Regions from separate parts of the Homo sapiens genome. Here all the other regions are linked to region 1. The links come from fine-mapping of genetic effects on gene expression. A gene starts in region 1. Each other region holds a variant in brackets. All regions are shown on one strand. Distances are from middle to middle.

Region 1 (4,567 bases):
CTTCTGTGGAGACAAACGTTTACTCCCTCTTGAATGCTAATTTGTCATGTTGCCTTCTGATTAACCCCAGCCCTGTGATTATTACTTTATTTACTGTCCTTAGTTTAACAACAAAGCAACCCTGATGTTATCACACAAATTACAGGCTATGATGCATATAGCATTCTTGCCTGTCTGGAGGGTTGCCTTTAAATGTCTCTATAGAGTACGTACACCCTTTCCTTATGGCATGTAAGTACTGGTCTGGGGAGTAAAAGGGCAGACATCTACCTGTCTTGCTGCCACTGAAGACCATGCTTCTGTCTGTAAGTTACCCCCAACAAAACACTCTTTACTGACCAAACTGGATTTGTCTGCTTTGTTCATTTGATTTCTCCTTTGATGTTTGGGGGGCACTTTGCATAAAGGGCCTTTTCATGGAACAACTTATTTTAAGGAACTCAAAATAGTTTAGGATGGCTGGAGCAAAGACTGAAAGGAGTTTCTAGGCAAAAAGGAAGGTGTCTGATTTATGAAAGTCCCTTTATAGGATGTTAAATAATGTGTTTTATTCTAAAGATAATGTGGAAGTTGAAGATTTTAAGCAAGAAAGTGACATGATTAGATCAAAATTTTAGAATTACTGCTATTAAAGGCAATGATGATGAGGGCAACTGAAGATGAACTGAGATGGAGGTCAGCATAAAAGGCAAAGATATTAAAAGGCTTTTGCTATTATTTAGGAAGAATAAAAGACTTTAAATAAGACAGTGACAGTGGTATGAGAGATGGATGGGCAAAGTTTGAGCAGTCAGGGAAAGAAGTAGAAGCGTTCTCTGTGGAAAATAAAGTGAACAAATGTTTGGAGAAAGGGAGGGTGAGCAAATCAGTTTATCTGGGGTATACAGTATTTGATAGAAGCTTTGGAAGGCTGAAGTGGAGAGCCAGAGTAATGGAGTAGCTGGTGATAAGGTTGAAAATATTGGTGGCGTCAGCCTGTGGCAAGGCTACAACAAACAGACTAAACAAATATAATTTTAACTTTCGGCAGTATTAAATTTATAAACAATTTTTATTGTAAAATACATATAAAACCTACCGTTTTCATTAAGTATATGGTCCACTGCATTAAGTACATTCATATTGTGCAACCCACACAACACCACTCATCTCCAGAATCTAAATCATCCTAAACTGAAACTCTATTATCCACTGAAATATAACTCCTCATTTCCCCTTCTCCTGGGCACCCTCTCCACCCCTGCTCTTGCTACCATTCCACCTTCTGTCTCTAGGAGTTTTGACTACTCTAGGTACTTAATGTAAGTGGAATCATAATATTTGTCCTTTCATGTCTGGTTTATTTCACTCAGCTAAATCACTTTAATCAACACCCTGGTTATTCAGTAGCTGGATTCTAATTTGTATTCTACTCTATATGCTGTATTTTAAAACAAATGTCTTGCTTTGTAGTTCATAATCTTTCCACCTAATCCTTAAAGACACTTCACTCTAGCAAATTATAAACTCAAGAGTTCCTAAGAACAATTTAGCCTATCGGTGTCTCTCATAAAGAGCTTTTATTGATCTACTTACTGAAAATGTCTTTAGATTGTGAATATTTTCATTCCATTACAGTTCATGGAACGTAGACCCTTTGTAAAATTCCACCTAGTATCTAAATAGAACTCAAGCAGGAATCAAACTTATTTGATCACCCAGGAAAATAGTTTATTTATTTGGGTTGCTAATATGAAGACTCTCTCTTTTGATACTATATAATTTCCCGATCTGAGATAGGGCTGAATTTGCTCTAAATAAAGAGAATTTTAAAAATAACAAAACTTATCTTTAGCTGGGGGAAAGTGCAGGCTGGAAACTACCTGAGAGACGTGAAGGTTCTCTCACCTTTCCCTTGTGGGCAGCCCTCAGTCATTAGGGCTCTACCAGCAAGTCAAGTACTGTTGGACAAGACACTAATCCTCTGGCGGTCTCATTGGGCTCCATTAGACCAGCCTGTGTTTACAAACCTCGTTCACATCACAGCATACACAGAATATGATACTGGTAGGGCACTTAGGTAAACTGAGGAGGTAGTGTGCTCGGCACCTGGAACCTACGGGCCGCCTGGTGTCGCGCACGCGGGAGTGTACGCTCTCAAAGAGCGATCCATCCGGCAGGACCGTTCCAGCTGACAGGCCACGGCCGTCTTACCGGGGACGAGCTGGGGTTCCCGCTGTTTCTGAAGTCAGCGGTCTTTTCCTCCTTGTAAGAAATAAGGTCTTTATATCATAAAGGTAAGCAAAGAATAAAAAGGCACAAAGGCCGCAAGCAACGCACACACGCAAAAATCGAACTACAGCACTCGACCCGCGCATTCTCCGCCGACCTTACGTCTCTCCCAGCAGGCTCCGGGAGCCACCGCGAGACTTCATCAATTCTCGCGAGATTTACCGGCAGCCATCTTCTTGGGGGTGCTGGGAGCCGGGAAGACCCCCTGAATCGTTCCCATTGAGCTGCCCTTCGCCTTCGCTTTCTTTACTTTTGCCTTTTCGACGTAGCCAACAAGCACCTGGTCCCGAGGCTGAGAGAAGGCTCGGGTCTAAGCGCGTGTCGCGCTTCCGGTCTGGGTAGATTTGCTGGGGAAGAGGGAAGGGGGAGGGCCCGGGCAAACCGTTGCTGTTTCAGCCCGGGCTGGGGGCCGGGGACGGGGAGCTCCTGGCACCCCGTGCACTTGTGGCCTGCGGCGGTCCTTGCAGAGCTGTTCGCCGACCGGGGCCCGCGGGAACCTGCCACCGGCGCCTCCCACCGCGGCCCACGCGGGCGGCGCGCGGAGGAGGGGGCGGGGGCAGCGGCGGCTGTAGCGGCCGCGACCTGGGCGGGCGGAGGAGTGTGACGGGCCTTAGGGCCGCTGTGGATGGTTTCTAAAATGATCATTGAAAACTTCGAGGCACTCAAGTCCTGGCTCAGCAAGACTCTCGAGCCCATGTGAGTATCCGGGGGATATCTCTTTGCAGGGATGGCAGTGGGAGATAGGCGGACCCAGAGATCTGTGCAGTTTCCCCAAGTGCCTGCGGTGGAGGCCGAAGCGGTGAACGGAGGTCCCAGGGTTCTGTGGCTTCTCCTCCTCGTCCACCTCGCTTCCAGATTCAGGATACCCCCGAGAGCCTGAGTCGAGCTTTATTTTATTGCTGAGCTGCTCTCGTTTTCCCGTTATATATAGACCGTCTCCAACCCCCACCCGCAATATTTTCCGGGGGCCTCAAAATCGGTTTATTTTAGTGAAACCGACTGTATTTTACTTCCTACAGATTATTTTACCTTGTTTTTCTAAATGAAGTAGACGGCCTTTATTGGGGATTCGGGCAGTTCTAGCTTAAATCACTCACGTTTCACCTAAATATAATTCCTGAAAGCAAGGCCACGTCTCCCATGTGCTGTCTGGCTCATCTGCACCTCTCTTCACTGATTGAAGATGTAACAGGTGCTGAGGTGGCCAGTAAAATTCCCCTTTCCCGCCTACGCGTTCGTTAGCTTGGAGAGGAGGAAGAAAATTGAATCTTCATCCATATGGAATATTTAGCAGTTTTAAGTGGGATGCTATAGATAGATTTTGTGTTGGGGGCTGCGGTTAGAGTGCTGAAATAGTCTTAGATTGGAAAATTTAAGGAGTGTTTTGACGACTTGTTAATACAAAATATGACATGGACCAAAGTGCTTAATCAGAATTGGTTGATTTACAATAATGCAATGGGGAAAATTCACGTATTTAATAAAGTTATTAGGTACCTACTGTATACTACGGGAGGCTTTGGGGATAGAGCTTTTAAATTCTAAAATCGACAAGACATAAATAAATCCAGATATTAATAGAGTTGTGACTATTGTAATAATAGAGAATCATGTAAAAGTGATTATGAGGGGGGCTATTTCACATTGGTCAAGGAAGGACTCTCAGAGAAGGTGACATTGGAGTAACATCTAAAGAGAAGGGACCATGTGTGTCAAAGTCTTGGAAAAGAACATTCCTTGCAAAAGGAAGAGCAAATGAAAGGCCCTGTAGCAGAAGTGATTGTGGTGTGTTTCAGGAAGAGAAAGGCCACTGTGGCTGGAAAGAGCCTTGTGATGAGGGAGAGGATATAAAGGCAACAAGTTGGACAAGTAGGTAGGGGCCACATCATGTATGGGAAGACGTGAGATGATTTAAAGCAGACAAGGACTGATTTAATTTTGTTTTAACTCTGCCTATTTTGTAGAGACTGAAAGGGCAAGAATGGAAGTAAGAAGATTATTCAGAAGTGTGTTGTAGGCAGAGATGTGGCTAGTTTGCATTAGAGTGATGGTGGAGACAGGCAGATCCAAATACATTTCATAAGTAAAATTAATGGATTAAATGCGGGAGATGAGGGAAAGGGAAATCAAGGGTGGTGCCTTAGATAACCCAAGCAACAGAATGGGTGATATTAGAGAAGGCAGAGAACAGGTTAAGGGGAGAAGGAAAGTGGATGGCTAGTTTTGATAATAATAAATACAGTAAGTATGAAGTCTGTGGGATACAGCTAAGTGTGATAGCAGATCATTGAATATA
Region 2 (4,567 bases), 40 kb after region 1:
ATATTTCCAGCTGCCTAAATTCTGTGTTTATGTTGTACATAGTTATTCAAAGACTTACCTCTGAAAAGTGGGAAATTAGCCTTAGTCACTTTTTGAATTCCTCAATATGATTGAAACATTTATTAGTTGCCACTAATTTGATTATCAATTTAAAGGTAGTATTTATTTGCAAGTAAGTCTTAATAAATTGTGGGAGTTTACCAAATGAGTAAATATCTACTGAGTTTTTATCAGGGAATCTGCTACTGAAACATTATTGACAAAACTCATTTCTTTAGAATGAGTGATTATTGGACTGTAAATAGAAATGTATCTAGAAATGTAAATGTCACCTTTGTAAGAATTTTATTAAAGAATTAAAGACTTTTGGCTGGGCGCAGCGGCTCACGCCTGTAATCCCAGCACTTTAGGAGGTTGAGGTGGGTGGATCATGAGGTCAGGAGATCTAGACCATCCTGGCTAACATGGTATGCAACCCCGTCTCTACTAAAAATACAACAAATTAGCTGGGCGTGGTGGCTGGCGCCTGTAGTCCCAGCTACTCGGGAGGCTGAGGCAGGAGAAGGCGTGAAACCGGGAGGTGGAGCTTGCAGTAAGCCAAGATCGCACCACTGCACTCTAGCCCGGGTGACAGAGCGAGACTCCGTCTCAAAAAAAATAAAAATAAAAAAATAAAAAGAATTGAAGACTTTTAAGGATTTACCGTAAAAGATTTATAAGTAGTATTAAAGCCATCATTGCAATTTTTTTTAGTTTTAAGAGATTTAAATGAAGGACATTTCTAAAGACAAAAATATGACAAAAATTATATTTAAGTCTCATCTCGTTAGGTTATTTTCATTTGTGTGTTTTTTTTGTTTTTTTAGTATGTATACGTTAGTTTAACATTGCTCTAAAGTAATGCCTGAGCCTGGGAAATTTATAAAGAAAAGAGGTGTCTTTGGCTCATGGTTCTGCAGACTGTACAAAAAGTGTAGTGCCAGCATCTGCATCTGGTGAAGGCCTCAGGAAGTTTACAATCATGGTAGAAGGCGAAGGGAGAGCAACTAAAAGGGAGCAAGAGTGGGGTTGGTGGTGGGGGAGGTGCCATGCTCTTTTAAACAACCAGCTCCTGTGAACTAATAGAGGGCGAACTCACTTGTTACCTTGGGAGGGCACCAAGCTATTCATGAAGGATCTACCCCCATGACCCTAACACCTCCTACCAGGCCCCACCTCCAACATCGTTTGTCACATTTCTCTCTTTTGCCTCTTCTTCTTCTTTTTTTTTTTTTTTTTTTTTTTTTTGAGATGGAGTCTCCCCCTATACCCCAGGCTGGAGTGCAATGACACAGTCTCTGCTCAGTGCAACCACTGCCTCCCGGGTTCTAGCGATTCTCCTGCCTCAGCCTCCCTAATAGCTGGGCTTATGGGCGCCAGCCACCACGTCCAGCTAATCTTTGTATTTTTAGTAGAGATGGGGTTTCACCATGTTCGTCAGGCTGGTCTCGAACTCCTGACCTCGGGTGATCCACCTGCCTCAGCCTCCCAAAGTGCTGGGATTACAGGCCTGAGCCACCACGTCCAGCCAGATTGTCACATTTCAACATGAGATTTGGAGAGGATAAACATCCTAACTATATCAGTATGTTAAATATACTATCACTTTACAAGTATTTATATTACTGGAGAAGATCAGGTAGCTCTTGGGAAATGGTTAATTATACTTTTGTCCAATATTAAAAATATTCATATTTTTAAATATTTTACTTTTGCTAACTTAGAGAAAATATATATTTCCAGTGCTTTTGACATTTGTTTCTAACTATTCCTTCCTCATAGAAAAGGGTTTTTGTATGAGAGGAGACATGTGTCCTTTTGATCATGGAAGTGATCCAGTAGTTGTAGAAGATGTGAATCTTCCTGGTATGCTGCCTTTCCCAGCACAGCCTCCTGTTGTTGAAGGACCACCTCCTCCTGGACTCCCCCCACCTCCACCAATTCTTACACCCCCACCTGTGAATCTCAGGCCCCCAGTACCACCGCCAGGTCCATTGCCACCCAGTCTCCCACCTGTTACAGGTAAGTAAATCTGTTTGTTTCCCTGTATTTATCTAGCCATTCTTAGTCTATTTTTAAAACTTAATAGATTCTTAAATTAAAAGTATCTAAAGGAATCCCAAAAATGCCTGATAGAAATTAATAGCAGTATACTTCCATTTGGAATACACCTCCACTTTGTAGCCTGTGCCAAGCCAGTTACTATGGTTTGGAGTGACCCTGTGAATTAAGTATATCACTGGTAAAACCCAGCTGCCTG[C/T]AGGCCTTCATAGCTTAAGGCAAACCTGCTTTGGAATGTATTAAAAGGATATTTTACCCTGGATATCTAATTCAGTTGTAAGGGCTTGGTGTTTGTAGATATTATAGTTTGATAAATGAGAAGATTATGTTCGGATGTGCAATAACTTGTTTTATTTGTTTGCTTTCAGATGATATTTCTTATTCTTTGGTTTTGACAGGACCACCACCTCCACTTCCTCCTTTGCAGCCATCTGGCATGGATGCTCCTCCAAACTCTGCAACCAGTTCTGTTCCTACTGTAGTAACAACTGGCATTCATCACCAGCCTCCTCCTGCTCCACCCTCTCTTTTTACTGCAGGTGCAGTTTTGGCCCTTTTTATATTCGTAATGTAACACAGTTTTAGATGAAGAATTTTAAAATGTCTAGAGAGAATTGCTCTGTGAGGACTACTTTTCTCACTAAAATTATGTAGCCGTGGTGAATGAACATTAAATAAGCCCTCAGTTTTGAATGTTTTCAAAAAAACATTTTCTTTTTAATAACTTTTTTAAATAAAGTTATTTTCTTTTTGATACATATAGAGCATGTTATATGTTAATATGTTATATTGTTTACTTTTTCTCTTATCAATATTAAAAAATTACCAAGTGGAGTTTTATAATTGTTTTTTAATTACAGTTTTTGTATTACCAGATACATATGACACAGATGGCTACAATCCTGAAGCCCCAAGCATAACAAACACTTCCAGACCTATGTATAGACACAGAGTGCATGCACAAAGGCCCAACTTGATAGGACTAACATCAGGGGATATGGATTTGCCACCCAGAGGTACTATAATTAATCTTTCCTTCCTGTCATTTTCATAATATAAACAGTGGGAAAACATTTATAAAGAACAGTTGGTCTTGCCTTTATTGGGGTTGGATAAGGAATGGTGATTTATTTTATTTCATTTTATTTTTGGAGACAGAGTCTCACTCTGTGGCCTAGGCTGGAGTGCAGTAGCGTGATCTCAGCTCACTCTAACCTTTGCCTCCCCTTTAAGTGATTTTCCTGCCTCAGCCTCCTGAGTAACTGGGATCACAAGTGCCTGCCACCATGCCCAGCTAGTTTTTGTATTTTTAGTAGAGATGGGATTTCACCGTATTGGCCAGGCTGGTCTTGAACTTCTCTGACCTCAAGTGATCCGCCCGCCTTGGCTTCCCAAAGTGCTGGGATTATAGGCTTGAGCCCCCGTGACTGGCTGGGATGGCGATTTTGTTTGTTCCCTGTATCCTTCGTTCCCCCGTTGGAGAAAATATACTGTGTAATTCTGTATTTGTGGTAGAGGTGACACTTTATTATACAATTATTACACTGTCCAAGAAGGAAAGGAATTTCCTTAAAGAAGCACATTTTCTTGGGTAGCCTTTTTTTTTTTAGTAATTTGTATCATTTGTAATCTTGAGAGTAACGCTTTAATTCCTAAAGATAAGTTTATTCCTAGTTTGAAAAATCAAATAGTGCTTGGTATTTATTTTTGCTGACTCTTCACCTGTTAAAATTTGATATTAGTTTGCGTATATTTTTAAGCAAAGGATATCATGTGTTAAGAAATGACTCTTAAAATTTTCTTAGAGGAGACAGACTTTTGGATAAAATTTCTAAAAGGTACAATTTGGGTTGACATAGTCACAAGCTAGGGCAGCAAAGTGCCCTACATCTAGAGTGCCCTACATCTAGAGTGCTACACTAGAGATGTAAATGTAAACTAATAAGATTCAGAGGGAGAAAGTTCACATTAATTTGGAAAATACAGTATTTGCTACAGATCACATTTGATATAGGGAAATGAAGGATTGTCAGACATAATGGAAAATATTTCCTGGGCTAACAAAAAATATATCTTTTTCCCTAACCACCTCAATTAAGTTTTAAATCCCATTTTCTTTCCAGTCTTTTCTTGTCTTACCTAGTCAGAATTAAAAAATCATGCTTCGTCAGTTGTGAATAAAAGTCTTAGTTAGTAAGTAACAGTGCCTAATGGAGTTTGGTAAATGTGTGATTACTTACATATACTTTGTGTTTTTTCTTTTATTCATTGGAAGCTAGCTATCAGATTCTGAGCATCTTCCTTGAATGTTTAAAGGACTTTTTGTAATGAAGGTGTAAGGAATGTTTTAATTCAGATTTATATCCTCTTTTAGATCATAGGACAACATTTAATGTGGATACCCATTCCTCTTAAATTCTCTTTGAGGAATTTCAATAGCTATTATTAACAACAATAGAAAAAAGAT
Region 3 (4,567 bases), 110 kb after region 1:
ATATGGGAGTCAAAGGAAGGTAAGGACATAGAGAGAGAGTATAGACAAGTTTTTTCAGAAGATTTTTTAAGGGTGGAAGAGAGATAGGATTGTAGTTTGCAAGTCAGGGGGGATAAAGGGAAGCCAGGGAATTATGTTTAAATCTCTACAGAAAGGAGTCTCAAGACAGAGTGAGCAATAATAATAGTTTAAGGCAGCCAAAAAGATCGGATGAGAAAAAATCTGAAGCACAATTATAGGAACTGCCCTTAGACAGAAGTAGAAACAATCAAGGTGAGGGGAAAAAAAGTTCATTCCGCTTTTAGGTTTGGCAGTGGAATTAAGGGAGTCCCCATCAGATGTCTTCAGTTTTCCTTGCAACCCAGTAGACATGTAATTTGCTGCCTAGTCCCCACCTGCATAACTCCTGAATATCACCCCTCTTTCGCCATCTTTCCCAGTTATACCTGGTAATCCTCTAGAATATCTGGTCTCAACTACTCCCCTCATGTTCTTCCATTCCAAACTCATCAGGAACCTTCACCATGGTCTTCACTCCAATCATAGTGGCCTCTGTGAAAGCACTGCTGTGCTGGGGTTACTCAGCCCCCATTATCCCCCCTACCTCTACCCTATACCTTCGGGGCACCAGGGCTGTGCTGTGGTCTGAAGAAGTCAATGACCCATCCCAACTCTGTCAGTCTTTGTTGCTGTGACCCAGTGTACAGCATCTGTTCAGAGCTCAAGCATGATATGGCTGACAGATACGGTCTTTTGAACACAGCTCCTATTTTCTACCTAAACTTCTGCAGCTAGTGGGTAGACAAACATCTTGCCATCCCTCCATAATTCTTCTTTTCTGCTTTATCCACTCTCTTTCCTAATATCTTATATTTTTAAAGTTCCCTGACTATCAATTCATGAAAATAAGTACTCAGAGGAGTGGCAAGGATCATGAAGTGATTAAAATGTAAAGGATTTTAAGGAAAATAGGAGAAATTAGGACAGGAGTCTAAATAGCAAAGTTCAGAGCATGGTAAGAACTTTGAACTTCATTGTGAGGTGCTGGGGAGCCACCTAAATGTCTGAAAGTTTGAGAGAAAGAGGCTGGGACACAAGAAGGGCAGGGATGAGGATGGGGAATAGTAAAATGATTAGATTTGCAGTTTTTAATGATCTCTTTCATAATGGTGAGGAGGATAAATTGGAAGCATGGAGAACATTGGGCATAAAAGGGACAGTTAGGAGACTCCAAGTCTCTGGGCTGAGCAACAAAGTTGATGGCTGTGTGATACACTGAGATTGAACATGTGGGGTTGGGAACAGGTTTATAGGACAAGAGAAGGAGTTGAATTTGTTTTTGACATTTTAACCTTGTGGAATATCAAAGTGGAAATATCCTGTAGGCAGATATCTGCTATCTGAAGCACAGAAGAGACATTTAGGCTGCAGACATAGGTGTGAGAACCACATATATGAAAGAGATTCCTCAGAGAGCACATGCAGCACGTGAAGAGGGAAGGCTAAGGATAGAATCCCGATGAACCCTCAATATTTACAGGACCTAGAGGAGAAGGTACACATGAAGCAGATGAAAAAATTGCTAGAAGAAAAGAAGAGCTAAGTGAGGTGGTGTCACAAAAGCCAAGAAAAGAGAGAAGTTCACAAGCCAGAGCTTGATCAAGTAAGAAGTCAAATAAGATCAAGATGGAGAGGATCTAGCAACTCATAAATCCATATGCAGTTTCATGGGAGGAGAAGACAGACTGATGTAGAATGAAGAGAAACTGGGAAGTTAAGTGGAGACTGAATGTAGGGAACTCAACGTGAACAGTGGAGAGAAGGCAAAATTTAGTATGGTAGCTTAGACTTTGCTAGGTAAAGGAGTGTTTATTTCTTTTTGGAATGGTGGCTACCAAAGACTGAGGGAACTTCATGAACATGTTTTATAGACTGAAAGAAAAGAGACAGGGGAAAGGAAGAGGTTAAAAATGTAAAGGAATTTGTTTATAATGGACAGAGATTTCAGGATGCACCATGGGAAGGGATGGAGAAAAGAGGTTGTGAAAACAGTAATGAGAGTGTGCAAGAATATGGTGCTCAAGGCCTGATGGTTCAAGGACTACTCAAGCATGGTATGGCTGGCAGAAATGCATGGAACTAACTGGACTGTGTTTTTAAGTCAGTTTTGAGAGAAAGTTCTTTTGACTGGAACTGGGGCAGGTATCAAGTACTGGAGTGTGTTGATTGCCATTGGCAACCAATCCCCAGAAATACTAACACAACTGAAATGTTATAATTGTCCATTACAAAATTAAAATGACTTGCCCATAATAAGCA[C/T]GCATAATATTTGTAAAATAAATGAATTAAGCTGCTCTGGATTTTTTGAGGGATTGGGAGAAGGGAAATGGTGAATACTAAAGGTATAGAAAGGAGTACTGGGGAGAGAAAGAATCCCAGGGGAGAAAGATGAGATAACAAAGCCCAGCAGAGAATAAAAACACCTGATGCATGGAAGAAATGCATTTTGTCCATGTTTGCTATAAGTAAAGTACAAAAAAAGTATTTTTTTCTTTGCTCTGAATTGTTTGTTTATTTCAAGGACTGTATCTTCTTGCCTAGGATAATGAAAATCTTTCTAGGGCAGGAGTTGGTTTCTACCACTACTTCCTAAAAACAAGTAGCATAATATGGCTAGAGTAGAGACGTTAAGCATCCGGGTTTACTAACTGTGTGGCCTTAAGCAAATGACTTAGGATATATATTTTAGTCTCCTCATATGTAAAATGCAGCTAAAAATAGCACCTTTTTCACTGAGCTTTGAGAAAAATCAAATGAGATTATGTAGGTTAGAGATTTACTTGAGAGATGGTAATAATTCAATGGATTAGTAATTTTCATAAAAGGCTCACCTTCTCCTATGAGCTCTATGTCTTGGTGAAAAGGAAAGGCCCAGACAGTTCTAATGAAAGTGGATGCTGCGTAGTTCCACCATCCACTCCTAGGGCCTCATTTGAAACGGTAAATTGAATTTACCTTCAGGCCTAGTTAGATTTAGATATAGGGACTCCTGTGGAAAGTCTCAACATTTCTCCATTTCCACTCTAACTACTCCTAATATACTCTGGAGATCCAACCTTCACAGGCATGAAGGCTGTGGAATAGAGACAGTGAGCTCTTTAATGTTTCAGAGAATTCAGGCTGCTGCAAGCAAAAAAGGCTGGGAAGTCCAAACTTATTCCAGGTGAAAAGCAACCACTCTGTGTCTCTTTTTCCATAGCACCTCAGCTTTGTCTGTGTCTTTACTGCATTTCCTCTCTCTACCAGCTGGAAAGTCTTTGTGTTCTTCAGTATAACTTTTGGGGGGATTTTCTAATTAGCTTCACGCATACTGTTGCCCTGTATTCATCAGCTATTGCCAAAAAAAAAAAAAAAAAGCATAATGAAACATTCAACAACTCAGTGGCTTACAATAAGCTTCCATTCTGCACATCTGCAGGTTAACTGCAGTTCAGCTGATCTACCCTAGGGTCAACTGAGAAGATTTGCTCCAAGCCTGTGGGGCTTGCTTTACTTCTGTCCCACGTGTGTTCACACTGGGGCTCAGGCAGGAGGAGCAGCAGAGTCTTGGGCATTCTCCTTTCCTGCATGTAGTTGTAGAATGAGAGGATGACTAGACACATGTCATATCTCAGGAGGCCTCAGTCTGGCACATGTCACATCCACCCATAATCCATCAGCCAAGCCACATACACTCTGCCTACTCTCATAAAGCAATGTCAACTGGCAAAAGCCATGGATGCAGAATTCTAAGGCAGGAAATTTTGAAGAATGGCAAAAGAGGTTTGAAACAACTATAATCCATATGCATGAGGTGCCCACTCTCATCTAATCTTTGTATGTACTTACACAGAAGGCAGCTGAGTAGCACAGCCCACCGTGCCCATGGGCCAATGCGCATGATGCAGTATGACTCACATATCTAGTGTGTGAACACAAGGAAATGTGTAAATATCATGAGGAAAAAGAATAGAAGGGAACAGATTGCTTTTATTACTCATAAAACTTCACCATGAATTTGTTTCTAAAAGGAAAAAGACCAGTCAAGTCTGTTTGGAGGTACATTTATTGAAGAAGATGAGTTATAATTCAAAAGGAATAAAGTTATGAACCCCCAAAGAGTTGAGACTTAACAAACAACTATGGGAGATCCTTGCTGTAGATGCTTCTCATGTGCACGAATTTCAGTTACCACAGTTTTCGTAAATAACACCAGTCCTTCATGATTAAAAATCAGTTACCATAGTATATCAACTGTGGTTAATTGTATAAAGTACAAACTTCATTATTAGCTCTTTAATCTGCAAATCACTGTGTAAATAAGAGACCTGCATCTTGATCACTGAACAGTCATGTTGCTTCTTTCAAAGTCTGTCAGTGATTGGTTACTGTGCATCTTTTATTCAGTTCGTGCACATACAGCAAAGCATGTAGTTGTGTAGTTTTCTTGTCTCCCAATTACAAACGCATGTAACATTTTACAAAAATGGTTAATGCGATGTTAGTTACAACAGCTTAGAAGTTAAGG
Region 4 (4,567 bases), 57 kb after region 1:
CGCCGCCCCAACTAAATTCCAGTCATTATTTAAAGAGTGAAAGTCTCTCTAACATCTCCCATGAAACCTCCAGATTTTTCTGTTATCCCCACCTCCTCCTTGGAATTTCTGTGCTGCTTAGTCTGTGCTACTAAATTTAGCAGTATCAAATACTTACTTGGATTAGGTTTATCCTCGTTGAAAATAAGTATTTCAGAAAAAAGAAACACTGGAAGTGTTTGAGGTGATAGATTTTGATTATTACATAATGTATATATGTATCAAAACATCACACTGTACCCCATAAATATGTACAGTTCTGTCAATTAAATGTAAAATAAAATTTAACACTAAGTTCAGCTGTACTTAGTGTACTACTGAGAAATTCTAGAGACATCTAAAATGCTCAGTTATATTTGGAGTCTGTAATGTCAGATTTGGACTTTTGAAATTGAAGTGTGTACTCATAGCTTTTATAAAATTTTTGCAGTGTATTGTGAGTACAAATTTGTAGTTGATAATATAACTTTACTAATGCATAGACTAATATATATACCCATATATTATGCTAATGCAATAAACTACTAACTGAATTTTTATGGGAAAAAAATCATTTATGGTAGCAAGCTATTTATGGGGAAAAATATTTTTGATAAATACCGTAAACAGCCTATTAAGGAAAACAGTAAGTATGTAACTTTTATTCATCTTCAGTGAGTGTCTTTACAGAGAAACATTTTATTTTTGCTTATTTTTGTTGTTTCTGTTCCCCTAATCCTTAGGGGGTTTGGGTCCAAAATACTTACAGGGCAGTGATTCAAAGAAGTCTTAGAAAGAATAGAAGAATGTTCCCCATCATCAAATATTAGTTGAAAGATTCTTTTTTTAAAAAAAATGAAGGCAGGGGAAAACCCAAAGCTTGTATCTATACAGTATCCTATGTCATTATTAAACTAAATAAATACACAAATGTAACATTTTATACCTTCCCTATCAACAACACACAGTAAAACCTTTAGTGATTATTCTTTATCCTGAGACCCCATTTTCGTGAGGAGGCTAGAAGAGAGGAAAGTTAAAACGTAATTGCTGCTGGTAAATATGAAGATATTGCAAGAGGTATTTAGTTATTATGTGAATAGATTTGATAAATTATGTTTGAGTGCCTCTGCTTACTAAAGAAATTCATGAAGAATAAAGGGCTACATCTGTGTATACTGTCCTGGTTAGTTTTTTAAAACAGACTTAAGACCGTTCAAATTATCTTGCTGAATCCCTTCTAAATTCTAAGAAGGCAAACTGCGTAACCAGTGGAATATTTAATCTTCTTTATCATATCAGCTTTAAATATCAGATTTATGATACAGGATGTTATTGTTCTTGTGGTTTTTGCAATGTAAAAATATATCTTGGTCTCTGCATGATGATATATTAACATCTATACCATGGAACTTTTAAAAGGAAAATTGTGTGGTATAATTAAAAGAATATTGCATGTTATAGAGAAACTTCACCTGTTGATTTAGCAGGTGCCATTGTGTAGATGCTAAGCAAATCTTAATATGTTTCCTTGGATTTTTGAAATTTGAATTTGTTGTGTAACTTTGCTAGTTAAAAGATTTAGAGGGATTTGGCTGGGCGCATGGCTCACGCTTGTAATCCCAGCACTTTGGGAGGCCGAGGTAGGCAGATCACGAGGTCAGGAGTTCGAGACCAGCCTGGCCAATACAGTGAAACCCTGTCTCTTCTAAAAATACAAAAATTAGCTGGGCCTCGTGGCGGGCGCCTGTAATCCCAGCTACTTGGGAGGCTGGCAGGAGAATCACTTGAACCAGGGAGGTGGAGGTTGCAATGAGCCGAGATGGCGCCACTGCACCCCAGCCTGGGTGGCAGAGCTAGACTCTGTCTCAAAAAAAAAAAAAAGAGTGGGATTTATCATAGTTTTTTTTTCTTAACTGTTATTGACTATTTTTAATTTTTATTTTTTAATTCAGTGGCCTCTCAGGATTATTACCTGCATTTTTTTTTCAGGAAAATA[T/C]GAAATTAATTTATTTGAGTGTATTAGCTTTGCTGAACTTTGTAGTAACTAAGCTATTTGTGTAGCAAAAATTCATTACTAGCTGTACATATTTTTTACTTTGATGTTTGTTAAAATATTTCTCTGCAAGTTTTTTAATCTTTGTTTCTTTTAATCCCTTTGTCTATTTCACTTATATGTGGAATCTTAAAAAGTTGAACTCATAGAAGCAGAGAGTAGAATGGTGGTTACCAGTGGCTGAGGACAGGGGATTGGGAAATGTTGGTCAAAAGATATAAAACTTCAGTTAGATAGAAGAAATAAATTAAAGATATCTATAGTACAACGTGGTGACTATAGTTAATAACAATGTGTTGCATTCTTGAAAATTGCCAAGAAAGCAGCTCACCACAAAAAAAAGTGACGTAATACAAATGTTAATTAGCTTGACTTAGCCATTTTACAGTGTATATATTTCAAACAGCATGTTGTACATGATAAATACACAGACAGTCATCAACTTACGGTGACTTGACTAACAGTTTTTCAATTTGATGATGCATTTATTACTTACAAGTTGAAAATGTATTTTCAACTTAAATGGTATTTCAGCTTACAATGGATATAGCCCCATCATAAGTTAAGGGACATCTCTATACAGTTTTTGTCAATTAAAAGAATAAAATTTTGAAAGCTACAAAAAAGATAAGGTAGATCAGTGCATTAAAACATACTTTGTGTTCTTGAAATTTAAAAACGATTAATATCTAAAAGTATGTATAAACTTAACTTTAAACCAAAATCCCATTCTTCTCACCAGAATTCTCAGGTTTGATACAGAACGCACATCTGTGTGCTGCTTTAAGTGAATATCATAAACGAACATTCAGATTTACTGAACAGGTGACTACTTACTATGAAAACTGACCATACAGTAACTGTATTAATACGTTTCCTACACATAGCTCCTCATACTGTCTTTTGATTGCATTAAACCAATGTATTTCTGCTTTAAAAACCTGTTGGAGCTATTTATTGTGAGTGTGGCTGCTAGACATCATAACTATATTTGTATTTAATTTCTACTTAGGCATTGGTTATTGAAAAATCATACTCGGATAACTTAATTTTACAAAATACTTTTTCCCTTCCATTCTTATCTATGAAAAACAGCTGTTTTTCTCTTTCTTTACGATTACTTATAGTTATTGTGGCTGGTATTATTTTACATAGGAAATAAAATAAGGAGGTGTTAATGGATTGTAACCTCCCTCTCTTTAGGGAAAATAAGAGGTATTAGTGCTATACATTTTAACAACACAGCACATGATACTTTTCAACTTATTTTCTGAGTTCAGCATACCAAACCTGACAATATACTATAAGAAAGGAAAATTACAGACCAACATCTGTCATGAACATAGACACAAATATCCTAGAGAAAATATTAGCAAATGTCCAGTGATACATGAAATACATAATCATTCATGGCCAGGTAGTATTTATTCCAGAAATTCAAGGTTGATTTACCATTGGAAAAATCAGTTTAATTGATGTTAGTAGAATGAGGGAGGAAAAAACTCTAGATGATTAGCTCAGTAGAGAAAGTGTTCTGTTACTTAGTTACATTAAACACTCTGCAAAGGAGGAATAGAGAAAAACTGTTTTAATTTGATGAAGGAAATCTGCAATAAAAGAAAAAAAACTACAGCTAACATAATATTCAATTGTGAAATATTGACTGTTTTTCCTTGAGGTTGGGAAAGACAAGGATGTCCATTTGCATCACTTTTATTTTTTTTAGTATTGTACTGGAGAGACTCATGGGTGCACTAAGGAAGGAAAATAGAATAAACCATATAAAGATTGGAAATAAAACTGTTTACTTGCAGATGACATGGTTGTAGATATAGAAAATTCAAAATAATTCACACAGTTGGGATTAAGTAAGTGTAGTAAGATGTATAGAAGTAAATATGTAAAAATTATAGCACATATAGAAATGCATTTGGAATATAGAAATGTGGTTGTTTGGAGAAGTCACTGTCTCTGTTCTTAGGAATTGGAGTATCTTCTTTTCTGTTGGGCTCGTTACTTCCCTCCACTAATTTCAGTTTTAATAGATTTTCTTCTTTTGAAAATACATGTGTCTCTTACTATCCAAACTGTCTAATCTCCAGAACCAGATAGATTCAAATAGTGAACAATATAGTTCATTGTTTATAAGTCACATTTTTACATTTTAACACCTCTGACGTTGGGCTGTGTCTTATAATTGTTAGACACAGGTTATGATTGGCAGCCTTTTTTTCTTTAGTAGGGGTACATAAATGATAGTTTGTCTTACAGTCACTGAGTTGTAGCCTTAGTGAGTCACATTCGTGGATGTTCTAGTTTTACAGAAGGATGTTCCTGGATAAAAAAGGAAATGGGAATACTTCTAGGAATAAAGGAGTCTTATCATTGTCAGATACTTTTATTCACTTTGAACCAGCACTCCTTAGTCTGATACTACATGTCAAAAATGATTTGAAAAGGAGTATTCTCACTGAAACTGGAGAAATACTTGGT

Direction of the effects. Alleles are on the strand shown, and positions count from the first base shown. SD is a standard deviation of normalised expression in the study named. Not every link is listed here.
As copies of T replace C in region 2, the expression in follicular helper T cells of the gene that starts at base 2,416 in region 1 goes down (large effect, 0.85 SD a copy in Schmiedel 2018).

Evidence for each region. PIP is the estimated chance that this variant, and not a neighbour inherited with it, causes the effect.
Region 2: its variant is the best candidate, but not a certain one, in a credible set for the expression of RBM26 in follicular helper T cells (Schmiedel 2018, PIP 0.64).
Region 3: its variant is the best candidate, but not a certain one, in a credible set for the expression of RBM26 in whole blood (INTERVAL, PIP 0.89).
Region 4: its variant is the best candidate, but not a certain one, in a credible set for the expression of RBM26 in stomach (GTEx, PIP 0.70).

What each region holds. Positions count from the first base shown.
Region 1 is chr13:79,404,104-79,408,670 of GRCh38, reverse strand. RBM26 (RNA binding motif protein 26) reads left to right here and starts at 2,416. Exons shown (of 22, transcript NM_001366735.2): 1 at 2,416-2,967. The coding sequence starts at 2,897. It overlaps RBM26-AS1 (RBM26 antisense RNA 1), which reads right to left and starts at 2,362. Exons shown (of 7, transcript NR_038991.1): 1 at 2,194-2,362. RefSeq lists enhancers at 2,131-2,430, 1,760-2,751 and a silencer at 2,661-2,860.
Region 2 is chr13:79,364,127-79,368,693 of GRCh38, reverse strand. It overlaps RBM26 (RNA binding motif protein 26), which reads left to right. Exons shown (of 22, transcript NM_001366735.2): 7 at 1,822-2,061; 8 at 2,499-2,639; 9 at 2,976-3,116. Among named protein-coding and RNA genes, the nearest start is that of RBM26, 40 kb to the left of the region's middle. The variant C/T (reference allele first, on the strand shown) is at 2,300.
Region 3 is chr13:79,295,476-79,300,042 of GRCh38, reverse strand. No RefSeq gene overlaps it. Among named protein-coding and RNA genes, the nearest start is that of RBM26, 110 kb to the left of the region's middle. The variant C/T (reference allele first, on the strand shown) is at 2,320.
Region 4 is chr13:79,347,039-79,351,605 of GRCh38, reverse strand. The region is part of intron 14 of RBM26 (RNA binding motif protein 26); the gene reads left to right. Among named protein-coding and RNA genes, the nearest start is that of RBM26, 57 kb to the left of the region's middle. The variant T/C (reference allele first, on the strand shown) is at 2,018.